2 separate regions of the Homo sapiens genome follow, and region 1 is linked to region 2. Evidence: fine-mapped expression QTL. Tissue or cell type: whole blood. Region 2 holds a variant in brackets; the other region holds the start of a gene. All regions are shown on one strand. Distances are from middle to middle.

The links. PIP is the estimated chance that this variant, and not a neighbour inherited with it, causes the effect.
Region 1: ADAMTSL4 starts here. The variant in region 2 is fine-mapped to the expression of ADAMTSL4 in whole blood (TOPMed, PIP above 0.99).

The regions. Positions count from the first base shown.
Region 1 is chr1:150,546,334-150,554,434 of GRCh38, reverse strand. It overlaps ADAMTSL4 (ADAMTS like 4), which reads right to left and starts at 5,027. Exons shown (of 19, transcript NM_019032.6): 1 at 4,936-5,027; 2 at 4,540-4,613; 3 at 2,127-2,230; 4 at 1,835-1,892; 5 at 1,182-1,537; 6 at 313-1,009; 7 at 1-70. The coding sequence starts at 2,146. LOC124904417 reads right to left here and starts at 4,145. Exons shown (of 1, transcript XM_047438226.1): 1 at 3,085-4,145. The coding sequence starts at 4,145. The coding sequence ends at 3,375. It overlaps ADAMTSL4-AS2 (ADAMTSL4 antisense RNA 2), which reads left to right. Exons shown (of 6, transcript NR_187269.1): 6 at 5,685-5,871. It overlaps MIR4257 (microRNA 4257), which reads right to left and starts at 2,506; the gene lies at 2,421-2,506. RefSeq lists enhancers at 1,773-2,642, 3,132-3,821 and silencers at 5,157-5,296, 5,467-5,616, 5,548-5,842.
Region 2 is chr1:150,570,829-150,578,925 of GRCh38, reverse strand. MCL1 (MCL1 apoptosis regulator, BCL2 family member) reads left to right here. Exons shown (of 3, transcript NM_021960.5): 1 at 1-83; 2 at 435-682; 3 at 1,435-4,368. The coding sequence ends at 1,551. It overlaps ADAMTSL4-AS1 (ADAMTSL4 antisense RNA 1), which reads left to right and starts at 4,374. Exons shown (of 4, transcript NR_104133.1): 1 at 4,374-4,802; 2 at 5,105-5,267. RefSeq lists enhancers at 1-179, 180-898, 1-1,058. The variant C/T (reference allele first, on the strand shown) is at 3,575.

The DNA.
Region 1 (8,101 bases), 24 kb after region 2:
CCATGAATTCCTGGGAGTTAAAGGCTGCGCACTGCAGGGCCCGGGGGTCTGGCTGCTCAGGGGGGCAGGGCTGCGGTGAGGGGTACAAAGGAGTCAGAGCTGGGGAGCAAAATGAGGGTAGGGGCAGGGCTGAACCTGGGGAGCAGGTGGGAGGCTCAGGTCAGCGGAAGAGCTCCAAGACCCCTGCCCTGAGGTGGTCAGATGCCAAGGCCCTTCTCCCTCAGGTGCCAAGCGGAAGCTGAAGACCCAGCTTCAGGGCAGGGAAGCCACACTGGAGGTCGGGGTTGGGAGGGGAGGCCCGAGGAGACTCACCGCTTGGCTGCAGGCTCTTAGCTGTTCACTCTCCCCAGAACATCTTGGAATAGGGCTACTGGGAGCAAAGAGGCTCCAGAGGGAGCTGGCATGGGGGCCGTTGCTCAGCAGGGGCAGCCAGGCGCCCGGGTGCTGAGGGTCAGGCTCCAGGCGGGGCCCGTGAGGAGTCCCCCCCGTTCCCCAAGGCCCTTGGCCCTGCTGGCCTCGGCCCCGAGGGACCGAAGGAAAAGGATCAGGGCGTCTCCCTGCTACCTGGGGACTGGCCCAACCCTGGGAACTTGGCCTTCGTGGCTGAGGGGATGCACGGAAGAAGCCACCTTCTCCTAAGGAGTGCGTGGGTGAGGGGGGCTCTGTGCCAGAGGCCTGGGCTCTGGGGTGATGCCGTAGGGGGGCAGGCCTGGTTCTGGGGGCCACCTCTGTCTGAGCAGTTTCAGGGCTTAGAGGTTCTGCTTGGGGGGATGGGGTGTGGACAGACAGTTCTGTGGGAGGGAGCTCAGTTTGGGGGCTGCCGTTTGCGGAGAATGGCTCTGCTCTTGGAGTAGGGGACGGAATAGCCTCTTCCCCTCTAGAAGAGATCAGGGACAGCTCAGATCTGGGTGGGCTCCGAGGGTGCCTGCGGTTCCGGTGCAGTGGCAATGCAAAGGGCACTCTCCCATAACCGAACATTCCTGGCTTGATGGGGTCTCGAAGCCGGGACCTGAGAAGGTGTTTCAGATGTGGGGGCACAGCTCTGACCACCTCTGACCCTGTTTCCCCAGTTTACTTCCTGGCACCAAAGACAAGCCCTCTGAAGCCACCCGTGCTCCCCTTTCCTTCATGCTAAGCCCCCACCTTGCCCAAGGCCCACCTCTTCCACCCAGGCCTCTCACCTCCTGGCCGCTCGAATCTCCTGGGTCTCCTCTCTCCCTAGGTGGGAAGCGGGACCTCGAAGTGGGCCACCCCTTCCCCGAGACTGTGTCCTGTACAAGGGGAGGGTTTCTGGAGAAGTCTGGGGTCTGGGACCCTGGCCCCGGGGGAGGAGGGCTTCTGGATGTCTTGGGGGCCGGGGAGGGAGGGGCAGACTCGGGTGGAGCTGCACTGTAGGGAGCTGACATGTCCGGCTCCTGCGCTGCACCCCCACCCCGCAGGGCTGGGAGCAAGAGGCCCACTGGACCCAAGGTCCCCAGACACCTTCGGGGCCCTGGCCCTCCTCTGTAGGTGTCTGAAGAGAGTGTCCGGACAACACCTATATAGAGAAAAAGGTCAGACAGAATTGGAAGGATTAGAGGGAACTGTCCAGAGTGTCCATGTAGACCAACACTGAGGCTCACGGAGTCGCTACCAGTCCAAGGTCACATTCAGCAGCAGAGGGAGAACTACACCTCGGCCTCTTGGTGTTATGAGGCAAGGAACTGGGGAGTTGGCAGGGGAGGTGGGTGGGCTGTGGGGAATGGAGGCGTGGCCTGGAGAGATGGGGTGGGAGCCTAGGGGGAGATGAAAGGGTGGCAGGCAGGCTGCAGCTGCTCACTTGTCCAGAACTCACCTCCTGATCCAAGCAGAGCTGAGGGAGGGACAGAAGCAGCAGCAGATACAGCCAGGGCCTGCAAACCAAAGGCCAGGGGAGGGACGTCAGACTGGAGCCAGAGGGGGTGTTGCAACACTGCCCTCCGCCCCCAGCCGGCTCCCATATCCTGACTACCAACTTCTCAGAAAGCAGAAGTTACTCATCACTTCCCCTGCCCCTCCCAGTGGTCCCCTTTCCCTCACTTCCAGACACAGAGCCATCCCAGCACCTCCCCTTTTCCTCCCCCCCAACCCGTGGCCCCTTCTCTCACCTGCCAGTCCAGTTCTCCATCGCTCCCCCTCTACTGCCCCAGGGGGAGGCAGGAGCGGACTGGTCACAAAAACTACGCAGGCATCTGGGCGTGGAGGGTGCTCTCTGCAGGGACAGAAGCCTGGTGGTTACCTCTCCAGTGTCCAGAGAGCTTGGGGCTGGGAGGACAGCTCAGAGAATATGGAGGAGGGGGTGAAACTGGTCCATCCCTTTAGGATCCTCAGGGTGGGAGCAGGGAGGATCACTGCCTTGTCCATCTGTAGAGGCTACATGGTCAGGGGCTGACCTCAGCCCTCCAACTAAGGCTCAGTCCCCACCTCTGGGCCCTGTAGGGGCTTCTTAGCTCCTCCCCAAATCCTACCTAGGGACTGTTTCTAAGCCGGCTCAGGCACACACAAAAGGCTTTTTTTTTTTTTTTGAGATGGAGATCTCACTCTGTCATCCAGGCTGGAGGGCAGTGGTGCCACCAAAGCTCATTGCAGCCTCAAACTCACAGGCTCTCCTTCCTCAGCCTCCTGAGTAGGTGGGACTACATGCGTGCACCACCACACCCAGCTAATTTTGGTATTTTTTGGTGGAGATGGGATCCAGCTAAATTGCACAGGCTGGTCTTGAACTCCAGGCCTCAAGCGCTTCTCCTGCCTTGGCCTCCCAAAGTGCTGGGATGACAGGTGTGAGCCACCGCACCCAGCCAGAGGGCTCCTTCTAAAATGGTTGTCATCTGCTCCCACTCCTGCCCTCCCAGAGGTGCCTAGAAAGTAGAGGAGGAAGGCTCCACTGAGGATGCGCCAGACACTCTCTCTGAGGACCCACCAGAAGCCCCTTCCTTGGGTCTTCCAGACACAAGACCTTCCCCAGTCATCTCTCTGTCCTACTTGCCTCCCGGCTTTCTCTTCCCTTCTTAGATAAGCTCTTTAGGGAACATCCAGGCACATCTCATACACTTTTTGGCCAAGGGATAAGCTAAATGGGTTGACGGTTTAATCTCTAGAGAAGAAGCCGGCAATGTAACACCCACTCTGGGTGCCAGCATCTGGAGTTGGTTCAGTGAGGGCTTGTTTCCTGTGCGTCTCTACCAGCTGGGGAAGCGGGAAGGAGAGGTGCAGCCGGGGCTGCCTCATGCCCCAGCCACAGGCCTCTCATTCTGAAGAGCCGGGAAGTCCATCTGAAGTTCAGCTTTGAACACTGGAGAAGTGAGGCTTGGAAGCCACCCCAGCCACCAAGCCTGACTCTCTTTGCCCCCTTCTTCTCACTTTGAGTCCTTCCCACCCCTGCTCCTCATCCCACTCTTAGTTCTGCTTTCCAGGAAAAAAAAAATCTGTTTCTGTTGGATCTGAAAGGCACCCGGGAGAGGAATCCAGGGAGCCCTCGCATTGCTGAGGTGGGCCAGCTCTGGGGCAGAAAATGACCAAGAGAAGGGTAGGAATGTGCCTGGGGGCAGACACTCAGCCCCACTGCCCTCCCTGAGACCTAGGGTTCGGAATTTGAGGGAGGGGTCAGAGTGGCTGAGCCAGAGCGGGCGCCTCAGGGATTGGGGTTGGGGTGGGGGTTGCCGATGGCCACTCCTTCCCCTGGCTGGGCCGGCCACTAAGGTCAGCAACTCCACCCTGACTGAACGGGGGAGGCCAGGATCTCCAGAGAAGGGCCCATGTTCCACCCAAGTCTTCAGGCTCTGCCTGACTCTTGTTACTCCAGCTGAGGGAAGAAGAAATGGGGTGATAGTCACTGCCTGCCCCTTCTCTGATGCCGACCCCTCTTCATGCCCTCTCTGCCTCTGCTTCTCTCTGCCACCGAGATCTCTTCTCGCAGCCCCTCTCCACGGGTCTACCCAGTACACATAATCCCATCCCGAGCTGGGTTTGGCTTTGGCAGTTCCCTGGAGAAGTGAGGGGTGGGGGTGACGTGAGCTCCCGGGGCCCGGGCCAGGCCTGGCTCCCTCTCTGGAAAAGTCCCACCCCACCCTCCCCTGCGCAGCCCGGCAGGGGCCCATGCCCCCTCCTCTGCAGAAACACACGCACATTTATGCTTCTCACCCCTTTCCATGTCCCTCATTTGGTGTCGTTCCCGGCCCAGGACGAGGAAAGGAGAGGTCAGAGGTGGTCACTCTGGTGCCAGAGTAGACCCTGGTCTGGACAAACGCGGGCTCCTCCTGGCCACACCTCTCCACACTGCCCAGTGAAGACCAAGGAACAGAGACCTGCGCAGGGCTCACCCCTTCACCCCCAGGTCTCCCTGCTGGAGAGTGGTTGGACCCTGTGTTTCTGGGCCTAGCCATGGAGAATCCCTGTCCTGAGTCCGAATTCCCGGGCCCTCAGAGCCCTCCACTCCTGGGTCTGGCAGGCCACCCCAACAGGTGTCTTTCTTTTTTGTCAACCTCTTCTGCCATCGGGCTGAGCTGGATCAAGGGCACCCACCTGCGTCCCTCGCGGCGACCCTGTCCTCCAAGTTCAGGAGTGCAGTGGGGGACACACCGTCCGAGAGCACCCTCCTAGAGAGAGGGCAGGAGGCACCGGCCGCGCGGGGAGGTCATGGGTCTGTTTTCCAACTTTACTATGTGACTTAGGAGGAATTTTGGTTCACTCCCCGCCCGGGTGATGGGGCCAGAGTTCCACGGGATCAGACTCCCTCCCCAGGAATTCGACCCCAGGGGCTGGAAGATTGTCCGAGGCCACCGGAGCTGGGTCCGGGGTCGTGGCGGGGTCGCGACCGCACAGCGCAGGGAGAGGGGACGACGCGGGCGCGCGGGGCGGGCGGTCTAACGGGACCCGGGAGAGGGGCGGCCGGGGCCGGGGTCCCGGGGAGGTCTCTACCTGCTCTGCGAGCCCCCGGTGGCCCGTTAACCCTTCTGCGCCCAGGCGCTCTCTCCAGGCAACCTCGCTCCGCGGCGGCCACTGGGGCCCCTGAGCCGCGCTCCGGTCACGGCCGCCTCGGCCGCAACTCCGCCCTCGCGCCCGCCCCCGCCCAGCCCCGCCCGCCACGCGCCCCAGCCCGCGCCCCTCGGCGGCCCCGGGGTGGGGCCGGTCTGCCTCGCAGCCCCACTCGCCAGGACCACCCACCCCGGGCTGCGCGCCGGGCGCCCCCCGACGGCTGCGTGAGCTGAAGCCCGGGCTGGCCCAGCCGGGGTCGGAGGCTGCAGTCGCTCCCGGGCGCTGTCCTCGTGCCCGGCCGAGACTAGGGACTTAAGCAGCCCGGGCTGGCCCAGCCGGGGTCAGAGGCTGCAGTCGCTCCCGGGCGCTGTCCTCGTGCCCGGCTGAGACTAGGGACTTAAGCAACCCGGGCCTCCGAGCCGCTCGGGTGAGCGGTGCGAACACGGCGCGGCGCGGCGCGGCACAGGCGGGGCAGCCTCCAGGGGCGCCTGGAGCGAGGCGGCCTGGGAGAGCCGCTGGTCCGGGAGGGAAGCGCCCTGGACGGAGGTACCCGCGGCCCCCGATCCGCGTGGGTCCAGGCTCTCCCCTCCACGCAGCCTCCCCTGCAAACTCAGTCACTCCTGCCTCTCCCGTGTTGGGCAGTGGTGGTTCAGATTGCTGGGACTTCTATGAGCTTCGGTTTTTTTCCTCAGTAAGGTTTTACACTCGGGACTCAGCGAAAGGACAGCGTGCTGACTTCTGAGTCAGACTGATCTGGATTTGAACCTCAGCTCCAGCTCTTGCCAGCTATGTGGTCTTCGACGAATACTTCCACCCCTGTGTGGTGCAGTTTGCTCATCTGCAAAATGGGACTAATCTAATATATATGATGGGCTTGGATATGTCTCTTTATGCATTTATACATGGAAGAATGCACCCCAAACTCAGTAGTATTGGTGACATCTGGGGAGGGATGCAGGGTTGGGGGAGGACTGAAAAAGGCTTTTGCTTTTTACTCTGCGTTATGTTTATTATTATTATATTATTATTTATTTATTTTTTTTGAGACGGAGTCTCACTCTGTCGTCCAGGCTGGAGTGCAGTGGTGCTATCTTGGCTCACTGCAAGCTCCGCCTCCCAGGTTCACGCCATTCTCCTGCCCTAGCCTCCTGAGTAGCTGGGACTACAGGCGTCTGCCACCACGCCCGGCTAATTTTTTGTATTTTTAGTAGAGACGGGGTTTCATCGTGTTAGCCAGAATGGTCTCGATCTCCTGACCTCGTGATCCGTCCGCCTCGGCCTCCCAAAGTGCTGGGATTACAGGCGTGAGCCACCGCACCCAGCTATGTAATGTTATTTTTGTGAATTTTTTTAACCACAAGAGCAATCCATCTATTAGTTTTATCTTTTTTTTTTCTTTTTTTTTTTGAGATGGAGTTTCACTCTTGTTGCCCAGGCTGGAGTGCAGTGGCGCGATCTCGGCTCACTGCAACCTCCGCCTCCCAGGTTCAAGTGATTCTCCTGCCTCAGCCTCCCAAGTAGCTGGGATTAGAGGCATGCGCCACCATGCCTGGCTTATTTTATATTTTTTAGTAGAGACGGGATTTCTCCATGTTAGTCAGGCTAGCCTCCAACTCCCGACCTCAAGTGATCCTCCTGCCTCGGCCTCCCAAAGTTCTGGGATTATAGGCGTGAGCCACCGCGCCTGGCTATTATTTATTATAAATAATATATGTAAGCTGGGCATGGTGGTGAAAGCCTGTAGTCCTAGCTACTCAGGAGGCTGAGCGGGGAGGATTGCTTGAGCCCAGGAGTTTGAGGCTGCAGTGAACTATGATCGTGCCACTGCACTCCAGCCCCTGCGACAGAGAGAGACCTCGTCTCAAAAAATAAACACATAAATAAATAAAATATGTAAAATGGCTGGCATAGAGTAGACAATAAATGGTCACTGCTATTTTTATATTTTACTTTTTTTTTTTTGAGAAGGAGTCTTGTCCTGTCACCCAGGCTGGAGTGCAATGGCGCCATCTCAGCTCACTGCAACCTCTGCCTCCTGGGTTCAAGCCATTCTCCTGCCTCAGCCTCCTGAGTAGGTGGGATTGCAGGCACGAGCCACCACGCCTGGCTAATTTTTTGTATCTTTAGTAGAGATGGGGTTTCACCATGTTGGCCAGGCTGGTCTCGAACTCCTGACCTCATGATCCGTCCGCCTCAGCCTCCCAAAGTGCTGGGATTACAGACATGAGCCACTGCTCCCGGCCTATATTTTTACTTTCTATTTACTGACGCGTTGTATTTTGTTGGGTCTACTCAGTGTTTTAAAGGTTTTTGTTTGTTTGTTTTTTGTTTTTAAGACAGGCTAGTTTCAAACTCCTGGGCTCAAGAAATCCTCCTTCCTTGGGCTCCTAAAATGCCGGGATTACATGTGTGAGCCACTGGGCCCAACCTAAAGGCACATTTTTTTTTTTTAAATAACTTGTCAATACGTATTTTAAAACCTGGATATTTTAAAATTTCTCTTGAAAAACTAAAACACAAAAATAGAAGCTCTAACAACATTGTCCTGCATCCTCACAAAATATCAGAGGTCTTTGGTTCCCCACCTGTCATTTTTTGGGCGCCTTTTGCACTTGGTGTTGAAGAAGCAGCAAGAAGTCTCTGGCCTCAAGGAGTTGGGTCTGATCAGGCACAGACACGGCAGGTAATGGGGTCATGCGAAGGTTAATACTGGGCTCAGCTGAAGGAGATGTTATCTCTAAGAAGATGATGGATATGAAAACGTAAAATGCTTTCAAAATGTAGGAATTGGGCCGGGCGCGGTGGCTCATGCCTGCAATCCCAGCACCTTCGGAGGCCAAGGCGGGCGGATCATCTGAGGTCAGGAGTTCAAGACCAGCCTAGCCAACATGGCGAAACCCCATCTCTACTAAAAATACAAAAATTAGCCGGGTGTGGTGGTGGGCGTTTGTAATCCCAGCTACTCAGGAGGCTGAGACAGGGAGAATTGCTTGAACCTGGCAGGCGGAGGTTGCATTGAGCTGAGATCATGCCACTGCACTCCAGCTTAGGTGACAGAGCGAGACTCTGCCTCAAAAAAATAAAGAAAAGAAAAGAAAATGTAAGAATT
Region 2 (8,097 bases):
TGGGGCCACCAGCAGGAAGGCGCTGGAGACCTTACGACGGGTTGGGGATGGCGTGCAGCGCAACCACGAGACGGCCTTCCAAGGTAAGGGGGTTCATTAATCGCCAAGGCCTCACTCCCTTTTTTCCATCTCTCCCCGGACTCACCCGCCAAGGGTGGGTTGGAAACCGAAACGAGTCAGTGTTGAAACGTGTCTCATCCTATTCCTGAAGCCAGAATATTCTGGCCATGAGTCATTGTTTCCGCCCATCTTGATTCTTTTGGAAATGGCAGCTCTTGTTCAAAGACCGGAAAGGGTGGGATGTCAATTTCAAGTGGGGTCAACCTGAGTTCTGTAAATCCCAGTAGCGATTTTCCCGCCGCGGGTGGGCAGGCGAATCTTGCGCCGGTTTAGACAAAGGAGGCCGTGAGGACCTGCATGCTTTTCTTTCTCAGGCATGCTTCGGAAACTGGACATCAAAAACGAAGACGATGTGAAATCGTTGTCTCGAGTGATGATCCATGTTTTCAGCGACGGCGTAACAAACTGGGGCAGGATTGTGACTCTCATTTCTTTTGGTGCCTTTGTGGCTAAACACTTGAAGACCATAAACCAAGAAAGCTGCATCGAACCATTAGCAGAAAGTATCACAGACGTTCTCGTAAGGACAAAACGGGACTGGCTAGTTAAACAAAGAGGCTGGGTAAGTTTGCCTTAAGGATGAAAGGGGCCTTGGAGTGGAAGTAGAATGAAGGATTTTTTTTAGAGAGGTGGGGATATCTAAAGGTTTTTATGACGCACGGCTGTTTGCAGGCTCTAACTAAAGGACCATTGTTTATTTGATGTTGATTTAAGTAGTGGATCCTTAGAGATAGTGGTATGGCGGTCTTGAATTGTATCAAAAATCTTGGTTTTCTCTAGGCAATTTTTTGTTCCAATTCAGTTGAATACTCTTCAGTGGATTCAAACCATGAAAAAATAAGTCACCAGGGGAGGATAGCTGAAATAATTCCTAAGGCGGTGCCTGTTTTAATGGAGAAGATATGGGGTGGAGCCTGCGTTTTAAACAAACCCAGATCTGATGCAGGATGTACTTAACTACGTTGAGAAAAACTGATCTGCGCAATTGAGGCGTTACTGAAATATTAGGTGGTGGAGATTTGAGAATAAGGGTTTTCGTCTTTTACCTCATGGGAACTCTGGAAGTCCTTTTGTTAGGATAAATCCTAATAAGACCAAGATAGTACTGTAAAATGAAGTTTAATTATCATGGGTCCCCGCTTAAGAAACTGAAGAACTTATTTTCTTTTTTTGCCCCGGGGTGAATAATAATTGGTTTACTATTGCTTTAGGGGGAAACCTTAGATATTTTAATTTACCTTCTCTCTGGATAGTAGTGTTGTAAGAGAGCAGAAACCCATACTTGAAAATGTGCTTTTCTTTTTTGTTTTCTAGGATGGGTTTGTGGAGTTCTTCCATGTAGAGGACCTAGAAGGTGGCATCAGGAATGTGCTGCTGGCTTTTGCAGGTGTTGCTGGAGTAGGAGCTGGTTTGGCATATCTAATAAGATAGCCTTACTGTAAGTGCAATAGTTGACTTTTAACCAACCACCACCACCACCAAAACCAGTTTATGCAGTTGGACTCCAAGCTGTAACTTCCTAGAGTTGCACCCTAGCAACCTAGCCAGAAAAGCAAGTGGCAAGAGGATTATGGCTAACAAGAATAAATACATGGGAAGAGTGCTCCCCATTGATTGAAGAGTCACTGTCTGAAAGAAGCAAAGTTCAGTTTCAGCAACAAACAAACTTTGTTTGGGAAGCTATGGAGGAGGACTTTTAGATTTAGTGAAGATGGTAGGGTGGAAAGACTTAATTTCCTTGTTGAGAACAGGAAAGTGGCCAGTAGCCAGGCAAGTCATAGAATTGATTACCCGCCGAATTCATTAATTTACTGTAGTGTTAAGAGAAGCACTAAGAATGCCAGTGACCTGTGTAAAAGTTACAAGTAATAGAACTATGACTGTAAGCCTCAGTACTGTACAAGGGAAGCTTTTCCTCTCTCTAATTAGCTTTCCCAGTATACTTCTTAGAAAGTCCAAGTGTTCAGGACTTTTATACCTGTTATACTTTGGCTTGGTTTCCATGATTCTTACTTTATTAGCCTAGTTTATCACCAATAATACTTGACGGAAGGCTCAGTAATTAGTTATGAATATGGATATCCTCAATTCTTAAGACAGCTTGTAAATGTATTTGTAAAAATTGTATATATTTTTACAGAAAGTCTATTTCTTTGAAACGAAGGAAGTATCGAATTTACATTAGTTTTTTTCATACCCTTTTGAACTTTGCAACTTCCGTAATTAGGAACCTGTTTCTTACAGCTTTTCTATGCTAAACTTTGTTCTGTTCAGTTCTAGAGTGTATACAGAACGAATTGATGTGTAACTGTATGCAGACTGGTTGTAGTGGAACAAATCTGATAACTATGCAGGTTTAAATTTTCTTATCTGATTTTGGTAAGTATTCCTTAGGTTTTTCTTTGAAAACCTGGGATTGAGAGGTTGATGAATGGAAATTCTTTCACTTCATTATATGCAAGTTTTCAATAATTAGGTCTAAGTGGAGTTTTAAGGTTACTGATGACTTACAAATAATGGGCTCTGATTGGGCAATACTCATTTGAGTTCCTTCCATTTGACCTAATTTAACTGGTGAAATTTAAAGTGAATTCATGGGCTCATCTTTAAAGCTTTTACTAAAAGATTTTCAGCTGAATGGAACTCATTAGCTGTGTGCATATAAAAAGATCACATCAGGTGGATGGAGAGACATTTGATCCCTTGTTTGCTTAATAAATTATAAAATGATGGCTTGGAAAAGCAGGCTAGTCTAACCATGGTGCTATTATTAGGCTTGCTTGTTACACACACAGGTCTAAGCCTAGTATGTCAATAAAGCAAATACTTACTGTTTTGTTTCTATTAATGATTCCCAAACCTTGTTGCAAGTTTTTGCATTGGCATCTTTGGATTTCAGTCTTGATGTTTGTTCTATCAGACTTAACCTTTTATTTCCTGTCCTTCCTTGAAATTGCTGATTGTTCTGCTCCCTCTACAGATATTTATATCAATTCCTACAGCTTTCCCCTGCCATCCCTGAACTCTTTCTAGCCCTTTTAGATTTTGGCACTGTGAAACCCCTGCTGGAAACCTGAGTGACCCTCCCTCCCCACCAAGAGTCCACAGACCTTTCATCTTTCACGAACTTGATCCTGTTAGCAGGTGGTAATACCATGGGTGCTGTGACACTAACAGTCATTGAGAGGTGGGAGGAAGTCCCTTTTCCTTGGACTGGTATCTTTTCAACTATTGTTTTATCCTGTCTTTGGGGGCAATGTGTCAAAAGTCCCCTCAGGAATTTTCAGAGGAAAGAACATTTTATGAGGCTTTCTCTAAAGTTTCCTTTGTATAGGAGTATGCTCACTTAAATTTACAGAAAGAGGTGAGCTGTGTTAAACCTCAGAGTTTAAAAGCTACTGATAAACTGAAGAAAGTGTCTATATTGGAACTAGGGTCATTTGAAAGCTTCAGT[C/T]TCGGAACATGACCTTTAGTCTGTGGACTCCATTTAAAAATAGGTATGAATAAGATGACTAAGAATGTAATGGGGAAGAACTGCCCTGCCTGCCCATCTCAGAGCCATAAGGTCATCTTTGCTAGAGCTATTTTTACCTATGTATTTATCGTTCTTGATCATAAGCCGCTTATTTATATCATGTATCTCTAAGGACCTAAAAGCACTTTATGTAGTTTTTAATTAATCTTAAGATCTGGTTACGGTAACTAAAAAAGCCTGTCTGCCAAATCCAGTGGAAACAAGTGCATAGATGTGAATTGGTTTTTAGGGGCCCCACTTCCCAATTCATTAGGTATGACTGTGGAAATACAGACAAGGATCTTAGTTGATATTTTGGGCTTGGGGCAGTGAGGGCTTAGGACACCCCAAGTGGTTTGGGAAAGGAGGAGGGGAGTGGTGGGTTTATAGGGGGAGGAGGAGGCAGGTGGTCTAAGTGCTGACTGGCTACGTAGTTCGGGCAAATCCTCCAAAAGGGAAAGGGAGGATTTGCTTAGAAGGATGGCGCTCCCAGTGACTACTTTTTGACTTCTGTTTGTCTTACGCTTCTCTCAGGGAAAAACATGCAGTCCTCTAGTGTTTCATGTACATTCTGTGGGGGGTGAACACCTTGGTTCTGGTTAAACAGCTGTACTTTTGATAGCTGTGCCAGGAAGGGTTAGGACCAACTACAAATTAATGTTGGTTGTCAAATGTAGTGTGTTTCCCTAACTTTCTGTTTTTCCTGAGAAAAAAAAATAAATCTTTTATTCAAATACAGGGTGTGATATGGGTCTTTTCTCATCGACGCCTCTTTTTCCTTCCCTCTCTTAGGCAAACCTTTTAGAGAAGTCAGCTGAGCAAATATGTACAGGTGAATTCAAAGCAAAAGCCTCACAAAGTTGATTTGCCTTAGAGCAAAGGACAGTTCCTTTCTTCAATTCTAATTAGAGGTGTTGGGTTTTTAATTAAATATATTACTGCTGTACTTAGAGGAGTTCTTAAACCTCCAAGTAAAATCAAAAACCTCTTTAAAATCAAAATTTCTGTCTTGATTTATTTATTTATTATTTTTTTTTTGAGATGGAGTTTTGCTCTTGTTGTCCAGGCTGGAGTGCAATGGCACGATCTCCGCTCACCGCAACCTCCGCCTCCCAGGTTCAAATGATTCTCCTGCCTCAGCCTCCTGAGTAGCTGGGAATACAGGCATGCGCCACCACACCCAGATAATTTTGTATTTTTAGTAGAGATGGGGTTTCTCCGTGTTGGTCAGGCTGGTCTTGAACTCCCGACCTCAGGTGATCTGCCCACCTCTGCCTCCCAGAGTGCCAGGATTACAGGCGTGAGCCATCGCACCCAGCCTCTGTCTTGATTTTTTTGAATCACCAGGTGTTGGTATGTTTTGTTTTGTTTTGTTTTGAGGCACAGTCTCACTCTTTTGCCCAGGCTAGAGTGCAGTGGGGCAATCTCGGCTCACTGCAACCTCAGCCTCCCGAGTAGCTGGGATTACAGGTGCCCGCCACCATGCCCGGCTAATTTTTCTATTTTTGGTAGAGACGGGGTTTTGCCGTGTTGGTCAGGCTGGTCTTGAAGTCCTGACCTCAGTGATCCACTCGCCTCAGCCGAAGTGCTGCGATTACAGACCTGAGCCACTGCGCCCAGCCTTGATCTTGAGGTAAGAGGGTACTGTACAGCAGTTACTCTATCATAACACCTAAATAATACCTAAAGTTAAAGAGTTTTGATGAAGTTCTTGGCAGCAGTGCTTTTCCCCTTCTGCTTTCCAAAAGGAGGTAAAAAGAAGCCAGTCAATTTCAAAAACCCCTATCCTGCTTTTATTTTCAGCTACCTTGAAAGTGAGCTGAATCACCATGGAAATGTGCAAATGTGAGGTTTGCATACTTGGTTTTAAGCCCTGAGCACCATATGCTAATCAGGCAATCAGGATTCTGTGCCTCCCTGCAGTCAGTTGCATTTCTATTTAAAAGTGCATTTTGGTTTGGAAGCCCCTTTCTGGAGCCTAACTACCAAAAGGCAGCAACTTTTTGTATCATTACAAAGAAAGCTGTGTAAGTGCACTCCCAAGCAAAGGTGTGGTAGGAGAGTAGCAGCCACAGAGGACCCAAGCCCAAGTCTTGGCCTGAGTTAAGTTAGTGCTATTGCTCCCATTGACGTGCTATGATGTGAAGCCGTTTCTGGTACAGTGTTCCTTTGCTCAGCACCTTAAAAGCTTGGATTTAATAGTAACTGGGTAACCTTAATCAGTAGTCAGAATTATCAACACTTTGCTTTATTTGACACAACCAGACTTTCTCAGTTCCTGTTCTGTATCTAGAGCAACGTCTTCATACTGTTTTTTCACAAAATTTTTATTTAAAACAGTTGTGACAGCCGAAGGATTTTTTTTTTTTTTTTTACAAAATTAAAATGAAATAACTTGTACAACTGGTGCGTACCATGGCTCCAGCCAGATGCCCAAAGCACTGGCTATTAATTCCTGGAGTTCAGATGGTCAGTTGAGTCTATCCTAGTTTTTTGCTTCACTTGTTCAATCATGGAACTTTCTAGAACGCTGCCACTCTTCAAAGGCTTCTCAATTTCAAATTTGAAAACTTAATTCTCTCCCTCTTAGTTTCAAAGTTGTTACAGTGTTATCTATGTGAAGTATGTGGAAAGTTGGGGGCTGGGGATTTTCCTCCAGGCAGATTAAGAAACAGCTCTCCGGGTCGGGCGCTGTGGCTCAGGCCTGTAATCCCAGCACTTTGGGAGGCTGAGGCAGGAGAATCGCTCGAACCCGGGAGGCGGAGGTTGCAGTGAGCTGAGATCATGCCATTGCACTCCGGGGCCTGGGCGACAGAGCCAGACGCTGTCTCAAAAAAAAAAAAAAAAAAAAGGCACGGTGACTCACACCTGTAATCCCAGCACTTTGGGAGGCCAAGGTGGAGGGATCATGAGGTCAGGAGTTTGAGGCCAGTCTGGCCAATACAGTGAAACCCCATCTCTACTAAAAATAAAAAAAATTAACTGGGCATGGTGGCGGGCGCCTGTAATCCCAGCTACTTGGGAGGCTGAGGCAGGAGAACCACGTGAACCTGGGAGGAACCCCGGAGGTGGAGGTTGCAGTGAGCCGAGATCGTGCCACTGCACTTAAGCCCAGGTGACAGTGTGAGACTCTGTCTCAAACAAAATAAATACCTCTCTAGTGAGGTGGCTCACGCCTGTAATCCCAGCACTTTGGGAGGCCAAGGCGGGCTGATCACTTGAGGACAGAAGTTTGAGACCAGCCTGGCCAACACGGTTAAACGCCACTACTGGTGGCGGGCACTAGTAGTCCCAGCTATTCAGGAGGCTGAGGCAGGAGAATTGCTTGAACCCAGGAGGTGGAGGTTGCAGTGAGCCAAGATCATGCCACTGCACTCCAGTCTGGGTGACAGAGCGAGACTTCCTCTCAAAAAAAAAAAAAAAAAGGCCAGGGGCGGTGGCTTATGCCTGTAATCCCAGCACTTTGGGAGCCCAAGGCGGGCAGATCACCCGAAGTCAGGAATTTGAGACCAGCTTGGCCAACATGGTGAAACCCCGTCTCTACTAAAAATACAAAAATTAGCTGGGTATGGGGTCACGCGCCTGTAGTCCCAGATTGCAGTGAGCCAAAATCACACCACTGCACTCCAGCCTGGCGACAGAGCGAGACTCCATCTCAAAAAAAAACACCTCCGAAAATTTGGTGTCCTTTACTAATAATTCTTGGGAAGTAGAAAAAGGATATACGTAGCAAGCTTTTGTTCCCACACTATACTTGGTTTCTAATTTGCAGTTCCCTTCTTGACCTGCATAGAATAATAGTTATTTTCCATTGGGAAATGAGAAATCTTCAACATTGAGGTAAGTTAGGATTTTTTTTTTTTTAAGAGGTGGGGTCTCACTCTATTGCCCAGGCTGCAGTGCAGTGGGACTATCACGGTTCACTGCAACCTTGAACTCCTGTGCTCAAGCAATACTCCCACCTCAACCTCCAAAGTAGCTGGTACTACAGGTACCTCACCATGCCTTGTGTTTTGTTTTGTTTTGTTCATAGAGATGGGGTCTTGCTATATTGCCCAGGCTTGTCTATTTAGCAGGAGCTCTAGGCAGCCAGATGTTGAGAGTGTCTTCATTTTTCCATTACATGACAGTAGACTGCTTATTATGTATCATGAACTGTTAGATAATGGAATTATAAAGAGATCATTCTTCCCCTTAAGAAACTCAAAAAAAGAGGCCGGGTGCGGTGGCTCACGCCTGTAATCCCAGCACTTTGGGAGGCCAAGGCGGGCGGATCACAATGTCAGGAGTTCAAGGCCCGCCTGGCCAATATGGTGAAGCTCCGTCTCTAGTAAAAATATAAAAATTAGCCAGGTGTGGTGGTGGACTCCTGTAGTCCCAGCTACTTGGGAGGCTGAGGCAGAAGAATTGCTTAAACCCGGGAGGCCGAGGTTGCAGTGAGCTGAGATTGGGCCCCTGCACTC